Homo sapiens: one gene and its partner. The protein of the gene in region 2 purifies or fractionates together with the protein of the main gene of each other region. This does not show direct contact. Each region holds a gene or a part of one and is shown on either strand. Other genes may lie near its edges.

Region 1 (7,028 bases), on a different chromosome or scaffold from region 2:
ATGATCAGTATCAATCTCTGATTGGTATTTTTTTAAAAAGGGGGGGAGGAAAAGTATAATTGATACCATTAGAAGATTCCTAATTTTTTTCTTTGTATGCCCTATGCAGCAGCAGCCTCAATTTGTATTTATTTATTAATTATTATTATTATTTTTTTTTTTTTTGAGATGGAGTCTTGCTATGTTGCCCAGGCTGGAGTGCAGTAGCATGATCTCGGCTCACTGCGACCTCCACCTCCTGGATTCAAGTGATTGTCCCGCCTCAGCCTCCTGAGTAGCTGGGATTACAGGCATTCGCCACCATGCCCAGCTAATATTTTTGTATTTTTGGTAGAGACAGGGTTTCACCATGTTGGCCAGGCTGGTCTCGAACTCCTGACCTCAAGTGATCCACCCGCCTCAGTCTCCCAAAGTGCTGGGATTACAGGCATGAACCACCATGCCAGGCCAATTACTATTATTATTTATAGTTTTTGTTTTTGTTTTTGTTTTTGTTTTTTGAGACAGAATCTCACTCTGTCACCCAGGCTGGAGTGCAGTGGTGCAGTCTCGCTCCATTGCAACAGACACCTCCTGGATTCAAGCAGTTCTCATGCCTCAGCTTCCCAAGAAGTTGTGATTACAGGCATGTGCCACCATGCTGGGCTAATTTTTGCATTTTTAGTAGAGATGGGGTCTTGCTATGTTGGCCAGACTGGTCCTGAACTCCTGACCTCCGGTGATCTGCCTACCTCGGACTTCCAAAGCGCTGGAATTAAAGGCGTGAGCCACTGCACCTGGCCTATTTTTATTTATTTTTAATTTTTTTAGAGATAGGGCTGCAATGTGGTGGTGAAGTCCTAGCTCACTGCAGCCTTGAACTCCTGAGCTCAAGGGATCCTCCCATCTCAGCTTCCCAAGTAGTTGGGAGTACATGTGCATGCCACCATGCCTGGCTAATTATTTTTTGTGAAGACACAGGGTCTCACTTTGTTGCCCAGGCTGTTCTTAAATTTCTAGGCTCAAGTGATTCTCCTTCCTCAGCCTCTTAAAGTGCTGGGATTACAGGGGTGAGCCACCATGCCCAGCCAACATATTGTTATTTTAAATCTTTATCTTTTCTATGAAAGTGACAAAAGGTATATCAGGGATTAAATGACAATCCATACCTGTTTTTCCTAGGGGCTTTATGGAGAAAGTGAGTTTTAAAGAACCAGAATTAGGATATTTAGTCTATGGAAAGTTTGATGACCTTTTCTCTGTATTGGTTAGAAGGGCAGGTTTTGGTATAGTGGTAGACTCCATTGATTTCCAAATTCTAGATGCCAAGTGACTCTACTGAGTTGGGCAAAATTTTGCCTTTTTTTTTTTTTTTTTGAGATGGAGTCTCACTCTGTTGCCCAGGCTATAGTGCAGTGGTGCAATCTCGACTCACTGCAACCTCCACCTCCCAGGTTCAAGCAATTCTCCTGCCTCAGCCTCCTGAGTAGCTGGGATTACAGGTGCCCACCAGCATGCCTGGCTAATTTTTTGTATTTTTTTGTTGTTGTTATTGTTGAGACAGAGTCTTGCTCTGTTGCTCAGGCTGGATTGTGGTGGCGCGATCTTGGTTCACTGCATCCTCCACCTCCTGGGTTCAAGTACTTCTCCTGCCTCAGCCTCCAGAGTAGCTGGGATTATAGGCACTTGCCACCACCCCCGGCTAATTTCTGTATTTCTAGTAGAGACAGTGTTTCACCATGTTGGCCAGGCTGGTCTCGAACTCCTGACCTCAAGTGGTCCACCCTCCTCGACCTCCTAAAGTGCTGGGATTACAGGCGTGAGCCACTGCACCCAGCCTTGCCTTTTTTGTTTAATTCAAAATTCTTTTCCCATATGGTACCTGACATATCATTAAACATGTTACTGTTTTCAAATAAGATCAGATAGCTATGTGGAGTTTTGAACATTTTACATTGTTTGTTTTCTGGTTTTGTTTGTTTCATGTTACTCCTGGCAAGCTGTGATGTTTTCTGATACGTAGAGCAACTGCCATTTTTTAGCACAGTGTAAACTTGAAGGATGAATTAAATGTATTATTATTATTTACAGTTTTTTCAAGATGAAGTGATTATACCTAAGTAGGAACATATATATCTACTGTTTATATCCGTTTTCATGTTTAGTATCTTTGTGAACACCAGTTAGTTTTTAAATCTCCTTTCCCTGCTCTTTTTTTTTTTTTTTTTTTTTAAAAAAAGACTGGTTCTTACTCTGTCACCCAGGCTGGAGTGCAGTAGTGCAATCTTGGCTCACTGCAACTTCCGCCTCCTGGGTTGAAGCAATTCACATGCCTTAGCCTCCCAAGTAGCCGGGATTACAGGCATGCGCCACCATGCCAGCTCATGTTTTTGTATTTTCAGTAGAGATGGGGTTTCACCATGTTGGCCAGGCTGGTCTTGAACTCCTGACCTCAAATGATCCACCTGCCTTGGCCTCCCAAAGTGCTGGAATTACAGGTGTGAGCCACCGTGCCCGGCCACCTTTCCCTGCTCTTTAATCATGTAAATGCTGTGTTCTGGAGTTTCATTTGTCCACAAAGGAAAAGTCTAAATGTTTTAGAAATTAAGGTTGAAGTTTATGTTTATTTATTTATTTGAAACCTAAATATAGGGGAGGAATTCTCTTTTGGATGCTTGATCGTTCCCCTGCTTCAATATGATTTGTTTCATTGAACTAAAATGATCTCTCAGGGAATCTTCTGTGCAGCAGAATATTTTGACAAGGTTTATCAACGTCTCAAGAGAATGGTTAATATTAACATGAATAGCTCCATGTTTTTTTCTATTTTAGTCTTGCTGGTGGATGCCCTCCTTACTCCCCAATATATACGTCTTGGATAGACTGTTGGTGCATGCTACAAAAAGAGGTATTTCTTTTTCTCTGTCTCTCTCATTTTATTTTGTTTTATTTTTATTTATTTGTTTTCTTAAATATTGTCTCTGGAATCCCAAGTTAACTCTTGTAGCTCACTTTAGCTAGAGTTAGTCTAGTCTGCCAGTTAATGTACACTTTACAGTGTTCTGTGTTTTCACTTTGGCATAATAGTAAAATGTGATGTTTAGAAATCATGAGCAGGAGTAATGAAGAAGAAAGAATCCCTAGATGAGACCTAGAAGCCATTTGAGTGCCCACATTCAACTTACAAATACGATCCAGGTAGATTATTATCCTGGTAAAATGATGGCCTTGATTTTAGACTCTTTTTTTCCCCCAAACTCACCTTTCATAACCACTTATTTGTCACAGTGGTATTGACAGAGCTGGTCTTATACTTCTAGAGTCTTGTTAGTGGATGATTTTGCCTAGATACCAATTTAGGGTTTGTTATTACTATGAGGTGTATAATCTGCAACAAAAAATTATTTATTATCTAGGCAAAGCTTTATTGGAAAATAAAATAATGGGCTGGGTGCAGTGGCTCACGCTTATAATTCTAGCACTTCGAGAGGTCTAGGTGGGCAAATTGCTTGAGCCTAGGAGTTTGAGACCAGTTGAGGCAACATGATGAGACCTCATTGCTACAGAAAATACAAAAACTTAGCCAGGCATAGCACCTATAGTCCCAGCTACCCAGGAGGCTAAGGTGGGAGGATCACCTGAGCCCAGGAGGTCAAGGCTGCAGTGAGCCAAGATTGCATCACCGCACTTCAGCCTGGGTGACAGAGTGAGACCCTGTATCCAAAAAAGGAAAATAAAATAACGGCTAGGTATGGTGGCTCATGCCTATAGTTCCAGTTACTCAGGAGGCTGAGCCAGGAGGATCACATGAGTCCAGGAGTTTGAGGCCAGCCTGGGCAACACAGCCAGACGTGTCTCTTAACAAAAAACTACAGGCCAGGTGCAGTGGCTCACAGGTGTAATCCCAGCACTTTGGGAGGCCAAGGCGGGCAGATCACTTGAGGTCAGGAGTTTGAGACCAGCCTGGGCAACGCAGTGAAACCCCATCTCTACTAAAATACAAAAGAAATTAGCTGGGCGTAGCAGCGTGTGCCTGTAGTCCCAGCTACTGGGGAGGCTGAGGGAAGAGAATTGCTTTAACCCAGGAGGTGGAGGTTGCAGTGAGCCAAGATTGTGCCACTGCACTCCAGCCTGGGTGACAGAGCAAGACTCCATCTCAAAAAAAAAAAAAAGACAATAACAACAACAAATGGATTGGCTGTGGGCTAAATTTAGCACAGGATCACTTAAAATGATTATCAGTTTAAAGCTGTTTTTGAAGGGGGGTCCACTTCTTAAAAGATTGTAGAAGAAAGCGTATAAAGAAGCTCTTTGTTGCATTATTTTATAGCACTAGTGATATATAAGAGAAAGGCCTTTGAAATCTGAATGAAAAGGCCTAAGTGTTGTTTGTAGTTGCTCTTGCTTAGTGTGCCCACAAAGCCCCTCTGTGAATCCAAGCTTGAATACTTGAATGATTTCAGTACAGACCTACTATGAACATTGTGCATTTCATTCTGAGTTTTACTCTCTATTGTACAGTGTGGTCCCTGTTTAAATGGAAAAAATGGCCTTTCCTTCCTTCCTTTTCTGACTAACACTCTGTTATAGGAAGAAAGCAGACAGAGAATGGATTACGGTGTCAAACACACTTAAAGTAGGAACAGTTGTTCCTGTAGGTGCTTACAACAACAGCAAATCTTGATTGGGCATTTACTGTATACCAGATATCATGCTAAGAGCTTTTCTTACATCAGCTCATGTAATCCTCAAAACAGCTGTGTGAGAATAGGTGTCATTCTTAATCACCCATTTCACATATGAAGAAACTGGGGCTTAGAGCAGTTTAGTGCCAATTACATAATGCAAGGTCACATGGCCTATATTTGGGAAGGCTCAGATTTATACTCCAGAGTGTACTCAGTTGCACTCAGAACATTATTACTTTATTTTTATTTACTTATTTGGTTCTTTATTTTTTAGAGACAAGCTCTGTCGCCCAGGCTGGTGTGCAGTGGTGGCATCACAACTCACTGTAGCCTCAAACTCCTGGGGTAAAGCAATCCTCCTACCTCAGCCTCCCAAGTAGCTAGGACTACAGGCATGCTTCCACCATGTCCTGTTAATTTTTTTGTTTTGTTTTGTTTTTGAGACAGGGTCTCACTCTGTCACCCAGGCTGGAGTGCAGTGGCATGGTATTGGCTCACTGCAACCTCTGCCTCCTGGCTGAGGTCTCTGGCTCAAGTGATCGTCCCACCTCAGCATCCCAGGTAGCTTGGACTACAGGCACATACCGCTAAGCCCAGCTCATTTTTTTGTTTTTTGTTTTTTGTTTTTTTTAATTTTATTATTATTATACTTTTAAGTTTTAGGGTACATGTGCACAACGTGCAGGTTTGTTACATATGTATACATGTGCCGTGTTGGTGTGCTGCACCCATTAACTCATCATTTAGCATTAGGTATATCTCCTAATGCTATCCCTCCCCCCTCACCCCTGTTTTTTGTTTTTTGTTTGTTTGTTTTTTTGTTTTGTTTTGTTTTGTTTTGTTTGAGACGGAGGCTTGCTCTGTCATCCAGGCTAGAGTGCAATAGCACGATCTTGGCTCACTGCAACCTTCACCTCCCAGGTTCAAGCAATTCCCCTGCCTCAGCCTCCTGAGTAGCTGGGATTACAGGTGTCCGCCACTACGCCCGGCTAATTTTTGTATTTTTAGTAGAGATGGGGTTTCACTATGTTAGTCAGGCTGGTCTCGAACTCCTGACCTCAGGTGATCTGCCTGCCTCAGCCTCCCAAAGTGCTGAGATTACAGGCGTGAGCCACCATGTCTGCCCAATTTTTTGTATTTTTTGTAGCAACGGGGTTTTGCCATGTTGTGCAGGCTGGTCTCAAATTCCTGAGCTCAAGTGATCCTCCTGCCTTGGTCTCTCAAAGTGCTAGGATTACCGGTGTGAACCATCACACCCGGCCTTTAATTTTTTAATTTCTTGTAGAGATGGGGTCTTACTATGTTGTCCAGGTTGTTATTACTTTGATTATAAGATTTTATAAGTAGTCCTTAGAAACATGATTTCATTTCATTAAGAAATAAATAGGCCGGGTATGGTGGATCACACCCGTAATCCCTGCACTTTTGGGAGGCCAAGATAGGCGGATCACTTGAGGTCAGGAGTTTGAGACCAGCCTGGCCAATATGGTGAAACCCCACCTCCACTAAAAGTACAAAAATTAGCCAGGCACGGTGGCGCGTTCCTTTCCCAGCTACTTAGGAGGCTGAGGCAGGAGAATCGCTTGAACCTGGGAGGCAGAGGTTGCAGTGAGCCGAGATTGCACCACTGCACTACAGCCTGGGCAACAGAGCGAGACTCCATCTCAAAAAAGAAAAACAAAGAAATAAATGAAAGCTAGCACTTACTGAATGTTAGGCACTGTTCTACATGACTCATTTGCTAAGCCAGCTGGAAAGTGGCAAAGCCAGAATCCAACCTGGGCGTTCTGTCTGCCCAGAGTAAGAACTTAATAAGGAGAAATTGTAGTTAGTTCATAGTAGCTCAGCCTTTCAGAGAATACTAATCCTTGTTCTGTAGTGATAGTCCCAGTTTTGTCCTAGATTTAGTCACGTCTCCCAATTGGACCTCTCTGCTGATTTGGATTGGCTGATCTCATCTCGCTAGATATTATTTGTGTTTTGTTTTGTTTTGTTTTCCAGGGGAATATGAGCCGAGGAAATAGCTTATTTTTCCGGAAGGTCCCCTTTGGGAAGACTTATTGTTGTGACCTGAAAATGTTAATTTGAAGATGTGGGGCAGGGACAGTGACATTTCTGTAGTCCCAGATGCACAGAATTATGGGAGAGAATGTTGATTTCTATACAGTGTGGCGCGCTTTTTTAATAATCATTTAATCTTGGGAAAATTCAGGTGTTTGGTGTCTGCCTTTTTTGTTCTTTTTTCCAGCACAACATAACTTACCACTGATACTCCCCCTTTAGTTATTCTGAATTAGGATATTTTTGCTCCAAATTCTTATTTTACTTAACCAGAAGGGAAAAAAAGTTGTATTTTCCTGA
Region 2 (7,028 bases):
TTGTATTAGTCCCCATGTTACAGATGACAAAGCTGAGTAACAGAGAGAGTATCCTAACCAAGTTCATCAAGCTAGACACCATGAGACAGTATTCTGTGATGCTGATAGAACATTGGTGACCAGGCTGTGAATGGGTTAGTCCTAACACAGCTGTGCTTAGAAAGTAAAATAAGAGAAGAATGCTTAGGATAGCGAGGCTGATGGATCCAACTAACAACTTACACAAAGGTCTCTGTTGGCTCAAAAAGTTCTAGTTGTGTCTCTCTGGCATTCTGCCCAGTTTCTGCCCTTGAAAAGTAACACTTAAGGAACACTTTAAATAGTGATGAACTTTTCCCTGACTCTTAAAACCATGGACCCACATTTTCATACACCCAATAAAATGTTATTTGTCCCTCTTCTGAACTTCCAGTTCTGAATACATATGGCATTTCATTCATTCATTCAACATTCACGAAGGAGGTATGTACCAGGCAATGGGGACACAAAAGTGAATAAGATATGGTCCCATCCTAGCCTCGAGGAGCACACAGACAAATAAAAAGCCAATTCCTCATACAAGGCTGTAAGAGCTAAGCTAAATGGAAGACAGGATGCTGCAGAAGGCTGCCTCACTCAGACTGAAGGAAGGAGTGTTTTCTGGAAGAAAGGATTCCCCCAGCTGAGTAAGGAAGGATACACAGGAGGCAGTCAGATGAAGAATCAAGGGAGCAAGGGAAGAAATAGTGGCTTTTCAGGCTGCAGCACATGCCACTCCCTGGCCGCGAGAAAGAGTGACGAATCTGTAGATCTGGAAGTAGATCAAGGTGGCTGAGGTTCAAGGACGTGAGAAATGGTAATGGTAAGAGACTGGACTGGGAAGAGTGCTGGTGACCAGAAAATATAGGATCACATACATCGAGTGTTTCTGCAGAATGAGTGTATAACAGAGAATGGATTTTGTTATTTTCCTCATAACACTGTCACAAGAATAGGCAAATTTTTTCGGTGAAGGGCCACACAGCAAGTATTCTGCACTCTGTGGGTCACACGCTATCACTCTCCTTTTTCTTATATCCCTTTAAAAATGCAGAACCCATTCTTAGCTCCAGGCCACAGTTTAGCAACCTCTGTTCTGCTGTGACTTCTTATTTAGTGTCTGCCTTTACTGTGAAGACTGAGCTCTCTGAAGGCAAATACTGTTACCACTGTATCCTCAGTGTCTAGCACAGGGCCTGACACTTAAGGGGCACTCAAATAATTACCTTTTTGAACCCAGGAGAGAAATGACAAGGATCTGCATTAAGTGGGCATAAAGAAGGGGGAAGATTCAAGAGATAGTTAGAAGGTAAAACTTAAAGAGCATGGTAACTGATTAGCAGGAGGTAAGAAGGAACGAGTCAAAAAGAACTTACTACACGTTTTATCTAATCACAATTACTTGTATGTTTCTTATCCTATTAGAATATAAGTGCCTTAAAAGAGAGAATCACATCCTTAACACTGTGTCTAGCACTGTACTGTGCACATAGTGGGTATTCAACTTAATAACTTTTTGAATAAAATTCCCATTATCTTAACCTTTTTTTCATAAACATTAAAGTTTTTCAACAACTAAGAAATTTTCTTGAGGAAAGCAGTATATAGTTGGCCCTCAGTATCCATGGATTCAACCAACAGCCGATGTAAAATATTTGGAAAAAAGACAAAAATAATGATAAAATAATAAAAACAAAAACCAATACAACAACAATTTACATAGCATTATAACTAGAGATGATTAAAAGTATACGAGAGGATGTGCATTTTTTATATGTAGTACTGTGCTATTTTATTTCAGGGACTTGAGGATCTTCAGATTTTGGTATCCTGGGGGAGGTGAGAGTGAGTACTGGAACCAATCCACTGCAGATACTGAGGGATGGCTATACTATCTTTTGGTACTGATATAGAAAACATAATGATTAAAAAACATAATGATTAAAAAATTCCTGGACCTTCCCAACATGCAATGGTTTATAGATTTATGTAAAACCAAATCTGAAACTAGCCCTGTAACTCAGAAAGCTTGGCTTACAATTGTTTAAATTCCAAAAAAAGATTTCATAAATGATACTGAATTATCCACATCCCATTCCTAATCCTTTAGAAAACCGAAAACTAAGCCCGAGTGTTTCCAGCTGAAACAATAAAAATAAAGCAAAGAGGTCCCATTTTTACCACATCTTTATAGCCTAAGAGTTAGGATGCAAGTTTCAGCAATGAGTTTCAACTTCAAAAGAAAAAAACGAAAAACTTTTAAGCATCCAAACAAGCAGACACAGCAAGAGGAAAAAAAATTCTCTGAAGGCGACAATCTACAATTACTCACAGAGCTGCAGCACCAGAGATAATTTCAATCAACTCTTTTGTGATGACAGCTTGGCGGGTACGGTTGAATGTCAATGTCAATTTGTCAATCATCTCAGCTACAAACAAAACAAAAACACTACATAAAAAATCTGAAACTAGAGTAGAATAACTTGTTAACTAACTTCTGTTGCTTAATTTAAAAGTAAGAAATTTTTGGATACCAAAATTGGCCTCTCAAATAATGTTATGAAGATATTTTTACATCTTCCATAGGATACCTTTTCACAGTACTTGCAAATCAACTACCTATCAAGATATACTTTCTTACAGGTACAGGAATATCATGTTAATGTTGTTGATGCTACTCTCGGCCACGGACTCCTCTCAGCTGAGATTCACTGTGTGCTCACAAGCACTCCTGCTGGCACTGTCCATACTGTGTACTTACAAGCATTCTTGCTGGCATTGTCCATGGCTGTCATCCTGGCACTCTGCTCACTAGTGGTGGACTCCTTCAGAGAGTAGTAGATGATGTTGGCCAGATTGTATTCTTGGTAATTTTGCAGCACGTCAGCATCAATATCGTCATAGATACTCATGCTGTCTGTTAAAACAAGTGATGAGTTTCTTTCAAGTTATATGGAAGGAATAGTAATTCATCAAAAACAGCTTTTCAGTGTAAAACTCCTTTATAATTACAGAGCAGAAATTAATGCTAGATAAGGTAAATGAATCTGTTCTAATAATGTCATCTATTTCCACACTACAGATGATAGCATATTTTTAGCAAAATATAATGTGTAAATAAACCATTTGATATTCTACTCCACATGTGTAACTTTAGAAAAATTAGGTCAACATTTGAAATAACTGCACTATATCTCGTGGTTATGAAGCCCTCTGGACAGCATTAGCATGTGCCTGTTACAAAGCCAGCAAGCACTCAATGCTTTTTCCAGTAAAAAAGAATAATAATGAATTGAAACGAATTTAGTGTAATACAGGTTGAGCATCCCTAATCCCAAAGTCCAAAATCTGAAGTGCTCCAAAATCTGAAACATTTTGAGCACTGACGTGATGCCACAAGTGGAAAATTCCACACCTGACCTTGTGTGATGGGGTGCATTTGAAACTTTGTTTCATGCAGAAAATTCTTTAAAATATTGCATAAAATTGCCTTCAGGCTATGTGTATAGGGTGTACAGACTCAGGTCCTGTCCCCAAGATACTGCATTATAAATATGAAAATATTCTGAAATCCCAAACATTTCTGGTCCTAAGCATTCACACAAGGGATACTCAACCTGTGCAGTAATTCCAACTTAGTCATTTGATTACTGAAGAAATCTGAATGTATCAATCTGGAAAATGAGAGAGGGAAAACCTTTCAAAGCACATGAAAGAGTGGGAGAACTAGAAATTGGTATGAATCGTAGTTTTAATGTTGTAGAAATTTAGAAGTACATTTCAAAATTCATTCATTGGGGTCAAGTGGTGACACAGTACTATATATTATCAAAATACTATATTTCATTAAATGGTACTGGTTGTAACACCTACTTTATTTCTCATTAAGAGAGAAAAAAATGTACTCAATTATAAATGATGTTCCATTGGCTGGTAGAGCCATCTCAATTTCAGAAACATTAACGTGTAAAGTACATACTTGAAAATAAATGAAGTATTAGAAAATAGATGGTATATACAAGGGAAAAAAGCCTTAGAAAACTAAAATCAGTTCCAGAATATTATTCCAGGATGCTTCAATGATCAATGATGACTTTATTCCAACAATAAAACAAGAGAATTGAGTCAGTCAATGTAAATTAGCTGTGAACACTGTTCAACTCTCTATTCTAGAGCTTCTGTTTTATTGTAGTTAGAGGTCCCAAACATAACTTGCAAAGCCAGTTTCTAGCTACGCTCTTCAATCCTTGAGGACAAAAAAATCTAATGATGAACCTCAATAGATACTGACTTTTCAATTAATGACAGAATAGAGCAGGAGTTATCAAACAATGACTGAATTAAGTATCATGGAAGTCAAGAGATGGCACTTCTCAGAAACAGCCCCAGATCGGCCGGGTGCAGTGGCTCATGCCTGTAATCCCAGCACTTTGGAAGGCCAAGGCAGGTGGATCACTTGAGGGCAGGAGTTCAAGACCAGCCTGGCGAACACGGTGAAATGCTGTCTCTACTAAAAATACAAAAATTAGCCAGGCGTGGTGGCGTGCACCTGTAATCCCAGCTACTTGGGAGGCTGAGGCAGGAGAACGGCGTGAACCCGGGAGGCGAAGGTTGCAGTGAGCCGAGATCATGCCATTGCACTTCAGCCTGGGTGACACAGTGAGACTCCGTCTCAAAAAATAAAAAATAAAAAAATAAAAGGCTGGGCTCATGCCTGTAATCCCAGCACTTTGGGAGGCCGAGGCGGGTGGATCACGAGGTCAGGAGATTGAGACCATCCTGGCTAACATGGTGAAACCCCGTCTCTACTAAAAATACAAAAAATTAGCCAGGCTTGGTGGCGGGTGCCTGTAGTCCCAGGTACTAGGGAGGCTGAGGCAGGAGAATGGTGTGAACCCAGGAGGCGGAACTTGCAGTGAGCCGAGATGGTGCCACTGCACTCCAGCCTGGGAGGCAGCAAGATTCCATCTAAAAAAGAAACAGCCCCAAATCATTTGCTATAGCTACCACCAGATATCTTGACACTGTCTGCCTTAGTGTACAAATCTCTCCATTCTATATGCCAAAAAATATGTATCATAGAAAAACTACTTACCAGCACTTGCAACGGTATTAAGGGAAAAGATGGGCTTTTCTTCTGTCTTATAGGAGATGACAGACCTAGAATTGACAAAAACAAATGTAAATCTCAAAATAATTTTTAAACTGTTATTTCAAAATATGAACAAAAGCATGAACATAAAAAAGCTTTGATTTCTAAATCTGTCTTGCCTGAATTTATTAAAGATGATGGAGCCTTCATCAAATTCATATCCAGAATTTAGTAATTCAAGGGCAATGACTGACGCATCTCCAAAAGTGGGGGGCTTTCTTCCCACTTCTTTGAATGCCACCAGAAACTGGTCAGAATGAGTCCTATAAGAAAAGCAAGAGCTCACATAGCTAGTTTAATAAGATTTCTGCTGAAAGAGCACAGGGGACAGGCAGGAGAAAACATTGTCACCATGGATCAGGTCTTTTGGGGTATGGGTGGTGGTGATTTCCTGAGTTGTTCCACACACTATCATCATTCCTTTCCTTCAGCACCTGCAAAGAACTAAGAACTAAAAATGAGGTCTGTTTTATATTCTTTTCCCCTTTATTCCTCTCCTTCTAATCCTAATGAACTATTGCTAACATTTCCAGGCTGTAACAGCTCCTCAGATGCCTCATTTGGCTTAATGCTGATAGCTTTTGATATTCACATGGCATTCAACTTATGATCCGGATGAAGAAGCAAAGGTAGAAAACAGGGGAAGGAAAACAGAAATGTTCCAATATATCCTGGAAAAAAGAAAAAGGAAACAAACACCCCCTTGTGAATATACCAAAAAAGGCCCTGAAGAATATACCTTGTTATTGATGAAGGTTTTGAGAGTTTGTCAAAACTTTTGAGAGAAGATTTATTCGTGCTTACATCTTTATGAAAATAAACAATATATATTTAAATTACCTATAAAGTATGCCTCTGATTTTGTCACCAATTCCAACAAGCATAACTTCTTTCCCAGCTGCTGTTAGTGTAGCAACCTCGCTTTTCATCTGTTTAGCAATGGAGGAATGAATAGCACCACACAGTCCTCGATCTGAGGACACACCAATAAGGAGGTGTTTCTTCTTGTCTTCAGGCCCCTTGATATCAGCTTTTTCATACAGAGCTTAAAAACAAACAAAAGCAGTAATTTTTTTATATGCAATACACTAAATACAATAAATCTCTAATTTACAAAGCAGTTGGTTATTTCCAAAATACGCATTTAAATTTAGCTGGCAACTGCCTAGTGTAAGCAGGTGTTCTTAGGACAGCTGTAAGCTGAGGCCGGGCACAGTGGCTCACGCCTGTAATCCCAGCACTTTGGGAGGCCGAGGTGGGCGGATCACCTGAGGTCAGGAGTTTGAGACCGGCCTGGCCAACGTAGTGAAATCCCGTCTCTATTAAAAATATAAAAATTGGCTGGGCACGGTGGCTCACGTCTGTAATCCCAGCACTTTGGGAGGCCAAGGCGGGCGGATCACAAGGTCACGATATCAAGACCACGGTGAAACCCCGTCTCTACTAAAAAATACAAAAAAATTAGCCAGGCGTGGTGGCGGGCGCCTGTAGCCCCAGCTACTTGGGAGGCTGAGGCAGGAGAATGGCGTGAACCCGGGAGGCAGAGCTTGCAGCAAGCTGAGATTATGCCACTGCACTCCATCCCGGGAGACAGAGCTAGACTCCGACTCAGAAAAAAAAAATACAAAAATTAGCCAGGTGTGATGGTGGGGGCCTGTTAATCCCAGCTACTGGGGAGGCTGAGGCAGGAGAATCGCTTGAGCCTGGGAGGGGGAGGTTGTAGTGAGCTGAGATTGCACCATTGCACTCTAGCCTGGGCAACAGAATGAGACTCCATCTCAAAAAAAAACACAAAAAGAAAACAAACAAAAAACAACAACAAAACACACACACACACATAAAAAAACAAAGGACAGCT

Evidence for each region.
Region 1: the proteins of ATP5F1C (region 2) and MTCH2 fractionate together in Homo sapiens (co-fractionation; 2 studies listed by BioGRID). This does not show direct contact.

The regions. Positions count from the first base shown.
Region 1 is NC_000011.10:47,618,560-47,625,587, reverse strand, and holds part of MTCH2 (mitochondrial carrier homolog 2), read left to right. Parts: intron 1-2,811; coding exon 2,812-2,887; intron 2,888-6,668; coding exon 6,669-6,755; coding exon of another isoform or gene 6,756-6,788; 3' UTR 6,789-7,028. UniProt on the Homo sapiens protein: Protein insertase that mediates insertion of transmembrane proteins into the mitochondrial outer membrane. Catalyzes insertion of proteins with alpha-helical transmembrane regions, such as signal-anchored, tail-anchored and multi-pass membrane proteins.
Region 2 is NC_000010.11:7,798,177-7,805,204, reverse strand, and holds part of ATP5F1C (ATP synthase F(1) complex subunit gamma, mitochondrial isoform L (liver) precursor), read right to left. Parts: intron 6,216-7,028; coding exon 6,011-6,215; intron 5,775-6,010; exon of another isoform or gene 5,704-5,774; intron 5,434-5,703; coding exon 5,290-5,433; intron 5,179-5,289; coding exon 5,114-5,178; intron 2,936-5,113; coding exon 2,780-2,935; intron 2,448-2,779; coding exon 2,351-2,447; intron 1-2,350.